Linked DNA regions of Homo sapiens: region 1 is linked to region 2. The links come from fine-mapping of genetic effects on gene expression. Tissue or cell type: nasal epithelium. Region 2 holds a variant in brackets; the other region holds the start of a gene. All regions are shown on one strand. Distances are between the middles of the regions. Region 1 holds the start of KCNK2 (potassium two pore domain channel subfamily K member 2). Region 2 has its middle 180 kb from the start of CENPF.

Region 1 (5,381 bases), 300 kb after region 2:
TATCTTAACATCTCTGTAAGTTACATCACTTCTCCCCCAACCCCCAAGCACCCTACATGAATGTGGGGCCTAATAATGAAAATAATACAAAGGGGAATGTGGAGGACAACTGCTATGTATGAATTGATAGCAAAAAGCAGGGAAGATGGCAATCCAGCATTTGGGATTCATGATGAGACCTAAGTTCCATGAGTCTGGAAAAACAGAAGCGCTATGCAAGCATATATCAAAACATATTTAATTTATTAAACAGGCATATTCAAACTATTAATCTCCCAGTCTAGTAAGCATTAGCCAGTTTGACAGAGGACTAGTGCTGGGCAAGATGCGGTTAAATTTGCAGAAAACTCGGAGGGGGGAATGAAAAAGAATAATCGAATTGCGAACAAAATGGGAAAAATGAAAATAATATTCAAAAAAATTTGAGGAAATTTCATCTGGAGAACAAAGAGCCTATGAGACAGGGTAGAAAATGATTCAGAATATAGTGAATTCATCTCATTTCTCATGTATGTAGGGTATACCCTGGTTCCAAATACCTGGAGGGAGACCAGGTGAATATAAGAAAATGTCAGCTATTTAGTAGGAATAACGATTTCACTCAGATGTTTATCAAACACGTATTTAGCAGCAGATGCTAGTTACTGCAGATATTATGGTGAACAGAGAGATATGGTTTATGCCCTCACTGAGCATACAATCTAGTTTAAAGAAGCAAAACATCATGTGACAAGTATAAAGATAGATGAAAGACGAGTTGACCTGGGAAGCAAATAGTAAAACACCTGACTGGCCAGGATTCCAGGGAAATTTCTGGGCAGCATGGAGATTTGCAGGGTAACACCTGTGATGGTTAGTTTTATGTGTCAACTTGACTAGGCTACAGTGTTCAGTTATTTAATCAAACACGAATCTAAAATCTAAGTGTTGCTGTGAAGGTGTTTCATAAATGTGTTCAGCATCTACAGTAAGACTTCAAAACGAGATTGCTCTAGGTAATGCTGGTGGGCCTATATCACAAGCAATTGTGAGCCAAAAATTAGATTTCCTGGAAAAGGAGAAATTCTGCCTTAAGACTGAAGCATCGACTCTTGCTTGAGTTTCCAGCCTGCCAGAGCTGCCCTGTAGATTTCAGAGGGACCTTCCAGCCCCCATCATCCTGAGCCAATTCCTTAAAATAAATCTGTTACCCCACACACGTACACGCAAATGTGTGTGTGTGTGTGTGTGTGTGTGTGTGTACATATGTTCCATTTCTCTAGAGAACCTTACTGATAAAATACCTTAGTCATGTAAAGTTGGTGTGTGTGTGGTGTGTGCACTGAGGGAAGGTAACTGCCCAGGAAGACTTAGAATGAAAAAGATTTAGCCAGATCAGGAAGCACATTATAGGTGACCTAGAGACTTTGTAAGGATTGTGAGAGGATCAGATTCACATTTTAGAAAGGACATCTGATTGTATTACTTTTGAGCACATAAGTTGAGAAAAATGTGTTTGAATTCCAGCAGGAAGGATATTAGGAAGATTTTTTTTTAATAGGGGAAAGAGGTGCTGAATGTATTCTGGAATCTAGAAAAAATTGCATTTTTATCATTGACGGTAACAGTTTTGCAAAAGATTTACAAGCTTTTTTTCCCCTACAATTACGTCTATATTTTTCACTAAGAAGTTCTTGTAACTGGGAAAATACTCCAATCTGGCCGAGCAGCAGTTATGGAAGAAAAACTCTAGCAAACAGCAGTTGGGATGGGAGGGTGGAGGTCATCAGGGGATTCCCGCTGAGAAAGTGGGAAGGAAGAGAGTTTAGAAACGGATTGAAGTTCCACTACATCACGTGTGTTGTTAGAGAATTCGCCTATTACGACGACAGCAACGTCTGATCTCCTGGCTTTCTTCCCCTCCTTGGTGGGTTCCGTTCCGTCCCCCTGTCGCTGCGAGTTTGGCTGTCCCTACGCCGGGGTCTTGGAGTTTGGGCGGGGTCTGGTACCTGCCAAATACGGATCCTGATGGGGAGGAGGTCGGGGAGCGCTAAGTTCAGGCTGGAGTCTGAGTTCTCCCACCCTGCTGCTCCCACCCACCGCGCTTAGAAACCTATGTTTCCAGCAAAGGGGTCTTGCTCTGAGAGAACCTAACCGGGTTTTCTTCCATTCCCTTTGCATCTCTAGATGTCTTCGCCCTGGCTCCAGGTGCGTTCCCCATCCTTTTCGGTCCCGGACGTTCTGCAGATTATAGCGCCCAGCTCATGTCCAGCACCGCCGGAGGTGAAGTGGGGCGAGCTGGTGACTCCTTAACCCTTCCCGAAGGTGTAGACTGGAAGAAGCCAGGGTCTTCATTACCTCCCCTACTCCAGGGCTCTCAAGGCGCCAACGGGGACACTTCCCTGTACAGGTCTGGGGGGCCACGAGGGCGAGGAGGACGCCCTAGTGCAGGGGTCCAAGGACTCGCGTCCCAGAGCTTGGTCCCACACCCGGTCCCACACCCCGAACGCTGGTCGGGAAGGAGATAGGATGCAGCGCAGTGTGATGTGGATGCCAGACAGCGAGAGTGAGGATTTTGCGGGGTGGGGATGGGGGTTAGTGGAAGGGGCTGAGAGGGGAGGAGGCAGCAGGTGAGCCAAGGGGTTGTGCCCCCAGGAAGAGGGAAGAGAGGATCTTTAGAAGGGAGCATCTTGCAGGGGCGACGCAGGCAAGGGTAGGGCTAGGAGGAGGTGCGGGGAAGCAAGCCCTGGCGGTGAGACAGGAGGGGGAGGAGGCGAAGAGGAGGGAGTTCCGAAAGGAGGGAAACGAGCCGGCAAGGGGCGACAGGAGCGAGCCGGGAAGGGAGAGCAGCGGAGGGCTGCAGAGCTGCGGGCGCCCGGACCGTGCCACACACCCCCCGCGGGGCACGGAGGGCATTGCGGGGGGAGACACACAAAGACATGCGAAGAGGGGCTGAACGAGGCTCGCGCACAAAGACGCCGGGGCGCACGGCAGCTGGGGCTGCACCCACCGCCCCCGCGCCGCGCCGTGCCGGGGCCGGGCCAGCGAGCAGCCCGGGGCTGAGCGCGTGGCGGCGGCGGCGGCGGCGGCGGCGGCGGGCAGGCGCGGGACCCGGGTCGCCCGCGCTCTCCGGGTGACCCGGGCCCGGCAGCAGGCGCGCGCGGGGGCGGCGGCGCCCAAGCCCAACTTGGCCTCCGCCTCGCCCTCTGCCCAGCCCGCCGGTGTCCCCTCCTTCCCGCGATTTCGTTTCTTCTCACGCTCCCCCCCCCGCCCCCTCCCGCGTCCAGCCCCGCTCTCCCCACCTTGTAAAACAAAGCCGGGGAAAATGCCTGCCCGTGCAGCTCGGAGCGCGCAGCCCGTCTCTGAATAAGAAGTGAGTACAATGGCGTGTTTGTAAAAAAAAGCTTCAAGTCCGTCTTTTTCAAAAAACATTTTGAATGCTGCATGCCTCATGCTTCCCAGCGCCTCGCGGGAGAGACCCGGCTATAGAGCAGGAGGTGAGACCCCCCCTCCGGTACCCCCACCCCTCTGGCCGCACGCTCTCCTGCCCCAGCCTTTTCTGGGAGGACTGCAAATGCCCCCTCTCAGCAAGCGGCCGTTTCCCATCTTCGCTTCGCGTCCAAAGTGTTGGGTCATAATCTGGATTTGGAGGCAAACCCTTGCCAGATCCTCTCCACGCCGCTTCTCCCCCCTCTCCCGCCGGTGCCCGGGGTTTTTGCATCTGCCTGAGGTATGGGTTTGGAACACCTTGGGGGAGTTTCCCATGGAGAAGGAGGGTCAGCCCTTGGGAGTAGCCGGCAGGCAGGACTCATGGTGACCCCGGTCACACTTGTTGCCCATTGCCTGGTGGGACAGGCAGTGGTGCTGAAAAAAGCTTGCTTCCGCTGCTATTCAGTGGTCAGTCGCCGCTGGAGCGAAGACATATCTGGGTGAGAACAGAAGACCGGGATTAACAGAAGACTGTGATGAGCTGGGGGAGGGGAGTGGGTAGTGACGGTGCTGAGTGTGTGTGGAAGGGGCAGCTTCTCTCCCTGATCATACATCAAATGGCGTGGAGGTGGAAACCAAGAGGTTCCCTGTATTAAAGATAAAAGTCTGCTTTTATTTTTTAAAAATATTATTTTGGTATTTCATCAGTTTCTGTCCATTCTGTCTGCCAAATGTACATTACATATATTTCTGCTAATTAAAAAATAAGGCAACAGCTTAAAAGAATTAAACTCCTTCTGGAAATGTATTAGGTTAATGCACACACACACACACACACACACACACACACACACACTCTTAAAAATACCTGCCCCTTTCCCCAAAAAGCATATAATGGCCATGTGGCAATGTCTTAATGGAATTTCAGATTGGGATTTGGTGCCATCAAGGTAAACAGTCTTAGTGCTTTCTGGTTCTGCAGAGTGTAAACCACTGATGTGAAAAATCACAAATAGGAGAGCACAGAGATCTGAGGAGGAGAGACTTGGAAATCTTCATTTAGAGAGATAATTGTGGAACTTCTATGTGATTTTTTTGTTGTTTTTGTTCCAAAGATGGCTAAATTTTAAATTATGACTTTTGTTTTTCACTCAGACTCACTAAGCAGCTAGGAGGTTGTGGGGAGTCTGCAGATTATAGTGATTTTAGCTATTATCAGCACTTCCATTTTAACAGTTTTTTTTAATTATAGCATTAAACACATGCCCAGTGCTAATTTTGAGTGAAGGTGTCTTTATAAATATTTTAAAGGTATCTACTAGCTTGTGGCTTTATTTGGAACAGGTGAATGTATCAGGAGAGAAACATGTGCATTCCTCTGTGTAGTAGGTTGAACCTTAGGAAATTGCTGTAATAAGCTATATGTACATGGAATCTCCACTTGGAGCCATGGGTACAGAAACCTCATCACAGCTCTAATTTCATCTCTTCCAAATCAGATCCATTTGGAGCTTTGCTGACTGAGGATCCTGCCTTCTGCCATCATTTTACAACACTACTTAGGTCTAGTGTTTTAAATATCTTTGTTTGCAAAGCTTCTTTTTGATGGGGAATTACAGATGTATTTTATGAATTAAAACTATGGTAGCCTACAATTAACTCACAGTGTTAGGTAAGAGGGCAGGGTAGGTAGCCATGTGAAAACTGGCATTTTTTATTAGCTTCTCATACTGAAGTAATTTCAGATGCCTGTAGGGTATTTGAGTGCAATTCCATGGAGATTTCTTATATACTTACCTGAAAGTGTGTTTTAGATAAGATTATCATTTTATAATCTATATTATATACACGATAGCAAGTTTACTGAAATCTGTAGCAATTATGGACTTTAAGCTGATTATTCTGTTTGAGTTGATGGTTTTTAAAAGTCTTATTTTTCGGCCATTCTATTAACCTTTTTTAGTTCAATGTTG
Region 2 (5,381 bases):
CCTCACATGGGTGATCAAAATTAATATTTGTATTATTGCTAGTTTGGAAGAGTTCTTTTTTAATAAAAAAATCACACACCTTATTGGTATTACTTCATCTGTAACTTCTTCAGTTACAGATGTGGGGAGGGGTGGGCGTTTCTGGCTAGGATGCAAGCCCTTTTCCCACAAAGGTGTCTAGTCTAGAGGGGATGAAGTGGCCATGCAGTCGGGGTTGAGTGGCCCTCTGAACCAGAAACTGGACAGTGACTCATTTCCATCTCTCTCCTTGGGGGACAAATATAGGGTCTAAGTACTGCATAACATTTTCCAGGGGTGGGTTCTTGCTGGGCCTGGTGGCTGTGGAGGTAGGTCTGGCAGATGGCAGACTCTTGAACCCAAAGAAAAACACCAAAATGGAGAAGATGATCTCTAGTCTGGGGCACCCTGAAGCTGAAATTTTTCCTATTGCAACCGTAATAGCTCAGTCGCTGAATGCTCACAACAAGTCAATATGCCGAGACACTGGGTTGCAGCAGAGAAAGAGGTTTAATCATATGGCTGCCAAAGGATGACATGGGAGAGAACCTCAAATCCAGCTTCCTGTAGAATTTGAGGCTGGAGTTTCTACGGGTTTTGGAGTGGGTCGAAGAGTAGAGATGGTTGATTGGTTGAAGAGTGCATTGCGAAGTCATGTGACTGGTTGATGAAGAAACTGATTTTTCATGCTAATTCTGTACTTCTGTGGGGGTCTTCAAACTGGTTGTGCCAGCTGTTGCACTGGAATTTGGGATCCGAAAAATATCTCCAGTGATAACCAGGACTTGAACTCAGCTCTGTACCAAGCAGACCTAATAGACATCTACAGAACTCTCCACCCCAAATCAACAGAATATACATTCTTCTCAGCACCACATCGCACTTATTCTAAAATTGACCATATAGTTGGAAGTTAAGCACTCCTCAGCAAATATAAAAGAACAGAAATCACAACAAACTGTCTCTCAGACCACAGTGGAATCAAATTAGAACACAGGATTAAGAAACTAACTCAAAATCGCACAACTACATGGAAACTGAACAACCTGCTCCTGAGTGACTACTGGGCAAATAATGAAATGAAGGCAGAAATAAAGATGGTCTTTGAAACCAATGAGAACAAAGACACAACATACCAGAATCTCTGGGACACATTTAAAGCAGTGTGTAGAGGGAAATTTATAGCACTAAATGCCCACAAGAGAAAGCAGGAAAGATCTAAAATCGACACCCTAACATCACAATTAAAAGAACTAGAGAAGCAAGAGCAAACACATTCAAAAGCTAGCAGAAGGCAAGAAATAACTAAGATCAGAGCAGAACTGAAGGAGAGATAGAGACACAAAAAACCCTTCAAAAAAATCAATGAATCCAGGAGCTGGTTTTTTGAAAAGATCAACAAAATTGATAGACTGCTAGCAAGATTAATAAAGAAGAAAAGAGAGAAGAATCAAATAGATGCAATAAAAAATGATATAGGGGATATCACCACTTATCCCACAGAAATACAAACTACCATCATAGAATACTATAAACATCTCTATGCAAATAAACTAGAAAATCTAGATGAAATGGATAAATTCATGGACGCATACACCCTCCCAAGACTAAACCAGGAAGAAGTTGAATCTCTGAATAGACCAGTAACAGGCTCTGAAATTGAAGCAATAATTAATAGCCTACCAACCAAAAAAAGTCCAGGACCAGACGGATTCACAGCCAAATTCTACCAGCGGTACAAAGAGGAGATGGTATCATTCCTTCTGAAACTATTCCAATCAAAAGAAATAGAGGGAATTCTCCCTAACTCATTTTATGAGGCCAGCATTGTCCTGATACCAAAGCCTGGCAGAGACACAACAAAAAGAGACAATTTTAGACCAATATCCCTGATGAACACTGATGCAAAAATCCTCAATAAAATACTGGCAAACTAAATCCAGCAGCACATCAAAAAGCTTATCCACCATGATCAACTCGGCTTCATCCCTGTGATGCAAGCAAGGCTGGTTCAATATACACAAATCAATAAACGTAATCCATCATATAAACAGAACCAAAGACAAAAACCACATGATTGTCTCAATAGATGCAGAAAAGGCCTTTGACAAAATTCAACAGCCCTTCATCTAAAAACTCTCAATAAACTAGGTATTGATGGAATGTATCTCAAAATAATAAGAGCTATTTATGACAAACCCACAGCCAATATCATACTGAATTGGCAAAAACTGGAAGCATTCCCTTTGAAAACTGGTACAAGACAAGGATGCCCTGTCTCACCACTCCTGTTCAACATAGTGTTGGAAGTTTTGGCCAGGGCAATCAGGCAAGAGAAAGAAATAAAGGGTATTCAATTAGGAAAAGAGGAAGTCAAATTGTCCCTGTTTGCAGATAACATGATTGTATATTTAGAAAACCCCATTGTCTGAGCCCAAAATCTCCTTAAGCTGATAACTTCAGCAAAGTGTCAGGATACAAAATCAATGTGCAAAAATCACAAGTGTTCCTATACACCAGTAACAGACAAACAGAGAGCCAAATCCTGAGTGAACTCCCATTTGCAATTGCTACAAAGAGAATAAAATACCTAGAAATACAACTTACAACAGCTGTGAAGGACCTCTTCAAGGAGAACTACAAACCACTGCTCAACGAAATAAAAGAGGATACAAACAAAGGGAAGAACATTCCATGCTCATGGATAGGAAGAATCAATATCGTGCAAGGGGCCATACTGCCCAAGGTAATTCATAGATTCAATGCCATTCCTAACAAGCTACCAATGACTTTCTTCACAGAACTGGAAAAAACTATTTTAAAGTTCATATGGAACCAAAAAAGAGCCCACATTGCCAAGACAATCCAAGCAAAATGAACAAAGCTGGAGGCATCATGCTACCTGACTTCAAACTATGCTACAAGGCTACAGTAACCAAAACAGCATGCATCTGGTACCAAAACAGATATATAGACCAATGGAACAGAACAGAGGCCTCAGAAATAACACCACACATCTGTAACTATCTGATCTTTCACAAACCTGACAAAAACAAGCAGGGGGAAAGGATTCCCTATTTTATAAATGGTGTTGGGAAAGCTGGCTAGCCATATGTAGAAAGCTGAAACTGGATCCCTTCCTTACAGTTTATACAAAAATTGATTCAAGATGGATTAA[G/A]GACTTAAATGTTAGACCTAAAACCATAGAAACCCTAGAAAAAAACCTGGGCAATACCATTCAGGACATAGGCATGGGCAAGGACTTCATGAGTAAAACACCAAAAGCAATGGCAACAAAGGCCAAAATAGACAAATGGGATCTAAACCAAAGATTAAACCAAAGAGCTTCTGCACAGCAAAAGAAACTACCATCAGAGTGAACAGGCAACCTACAGAATGGGAGAAAATTTTTGCACTCTGCCCATGCGACAAAGGACAAATATCCAGAATCTACAAAGAACTTAAACAGATTTACAAGAAAAATACAACCCTATCAAAAAGTGGGCAAAGGATATAAACAGACACTTCTCAAAAGAAGACATTTATGCAGCCAACAGACACATGAAAAAATGCTCATCATCACTGGTCATCAGAGAAATGCAAATCAAGTCCACAATGAGATACCATGTCATGCCAGTTAGAATGGCGATCACTGAAAAAGTCAGGAAACAACAGATGCTGGAGAGGATGTGGAGAAATAGGAACACTTTTACACTGTTAGTGGGAGTGTAAATTAGTTCAACCATTGTGGAAGACAGTGTGGTGATTCCACAAGGATCTGGAACCAGAAATGCCATTGGACCCAGTGATCCCATTACTGGATATATACCCAAAGGATTATGAATCATGCTACTATAAAGACACATACACACATATGTTTATTGCGGCACTATTCACAATAGCAAAGACTTGGAACCAATCCAAATGTCCATCACTGATAGACTGGAAATGTGGCACATATACACCATGGAATACTGTGCAGCCATAAAAACGGATGAGTTCATGTCCTTTGCAGGGACATGGATGAAGCTGGAAACCATCATTCTCAGCAAACTATTACAAGGACAGAAAACCAAACACCACATGTTCTCACTCATACATGGGAATTGAACAATCAGAACACTTGGACACAGGACAGGGAACATCATGCACTGGGGCCTGTTGGGGGGGTGAGGGCCTGGGGGAGGGATAGCATTAGGAGAAATACTTAATGTAAGTGATGAGTTGATGGGTGCAGCAAACCAACATGGCACATGTATACCTATGTAACAAACCTGCACGTTGTACACATGTACCCTAGAACTTAAATTAAAAAAAAATTAAACTCAAACTACAGGGCAGTAAATGTCACGTTAGCTGTTTAAGTAATTGCATTTAATGTCAAATTAAATGATTCTACTCAATTATTTGCATCAAAAAATATCTCCGGTGATCTTTAAAGAAAAGCCTTATGATTCTACTGTCAGAGATCCTATCTATAGCAACAGTTGGGATGCAAATGGTCAGGATCTAGTGCTAACTGACTTACAGTTCCAAAGAAGGGGGTCAAAGCACAGCCTGATTAATGCTTAATAACTAGATTTCTGTCCAGAATTCTAGTTAACCCTGTGAGGATGGCTTCACTATCTGCTTGAAAGAGGTCATGGCCCACCTTGGAAAAAGTGGCATAAAGAAGGGAACCAGATCCAAAGTGTGGTGACTTTTAGTCAGTCCACCCTGTTCTTATATTTTAAAAAATAGTATTTGAATGACCAGCTTTTTTTCATTTATCAGTATATTGTAATTTTTTTGTGCTAAAAATACTTTTCTACAACATAATGTTTAATGGATGTTCAGTATTCATCATGTAAAAATGTACCAGAATTTTCTTATCTTTTATTACTGAATGTTTTAGTGGTTTTCCAATTTTTTAATATTGTAAACAATACTACATCTAACATTCCCATGCACATGTCTGAAGCCATCTATCAGGCTGAGTTATTCTTTTTTTTTAAATTATACTTTAAGTTCTAGGGTGCATGTGCACAACGTGCAAGTTTGTTACATATGTATACATGTGCCGTGTTGGTTTGCTGCACCCATTAACTCGTCATTTACATTAGGCATTTCTCCTAATGTTATCCATTCTCCATCCTCCCACCCCACAACAGGCCCCAGTGGGTGATGTTCTCCTACCTGTGTCCAAGTGTTCTCGTTCAATTCCCACCTATGAGTGAGAGCATGCGGTGTTTGGTTTTCTGTCCTTGTAATAGTTTGCTAAGAATGATGGTTTCCAGCTTCATCCATGTCCCTACAAAGGACATGAAATTATCCTTTTTATGGCTGCATAGTATTCCATGGTGTATATGTGCCACATTTTCTTA

Evidence for each region. PIP is the estimated chance that this variant, and not a neighbour inherited with it, causes the effect. A credible set is the group of variants that fine-mapping cannot tell apart.
Region 1: it holds the start of KCNK2, and the variant in region 2 is the best candidate, but not a certain one, in a credible set for the expression of KCNK2 in nasal epithelium (TOPMed, PIP 0.57).

The regions. Positions count from the first base shown.
Region 1 is chr1:215,079,956-215,085,336 of GRCh38, forward strand. KCNK2 (potassium two pore domain channel subfamily K member 2) reads left to right here and starts at 2,782. Exons shown (of 7, transcript NM_001017425.3): 1 at 2,782-3,476. The coding sequence starts at 3,431. LOC124904511 (a long non-coding RNA gene) reads right to left here and starts at 2,369. Exons shown (of 2, transcript XR_007066878.1): 1 at 2,135-2,369; 2 at 227-2,004. RefSeq lists an enhancer at 3,140-3,662.
Region 2 is chr1:214,780,971-214,786,351 of GRCh38, forward strand. No RefSeq gene overlaps it. Among named protein-coding and RNA genes, the nearest start is that of CENPF, 180 kb to the left of the region's middle. The variant G/A (reference allele first, on the strand shown) is at 3,197.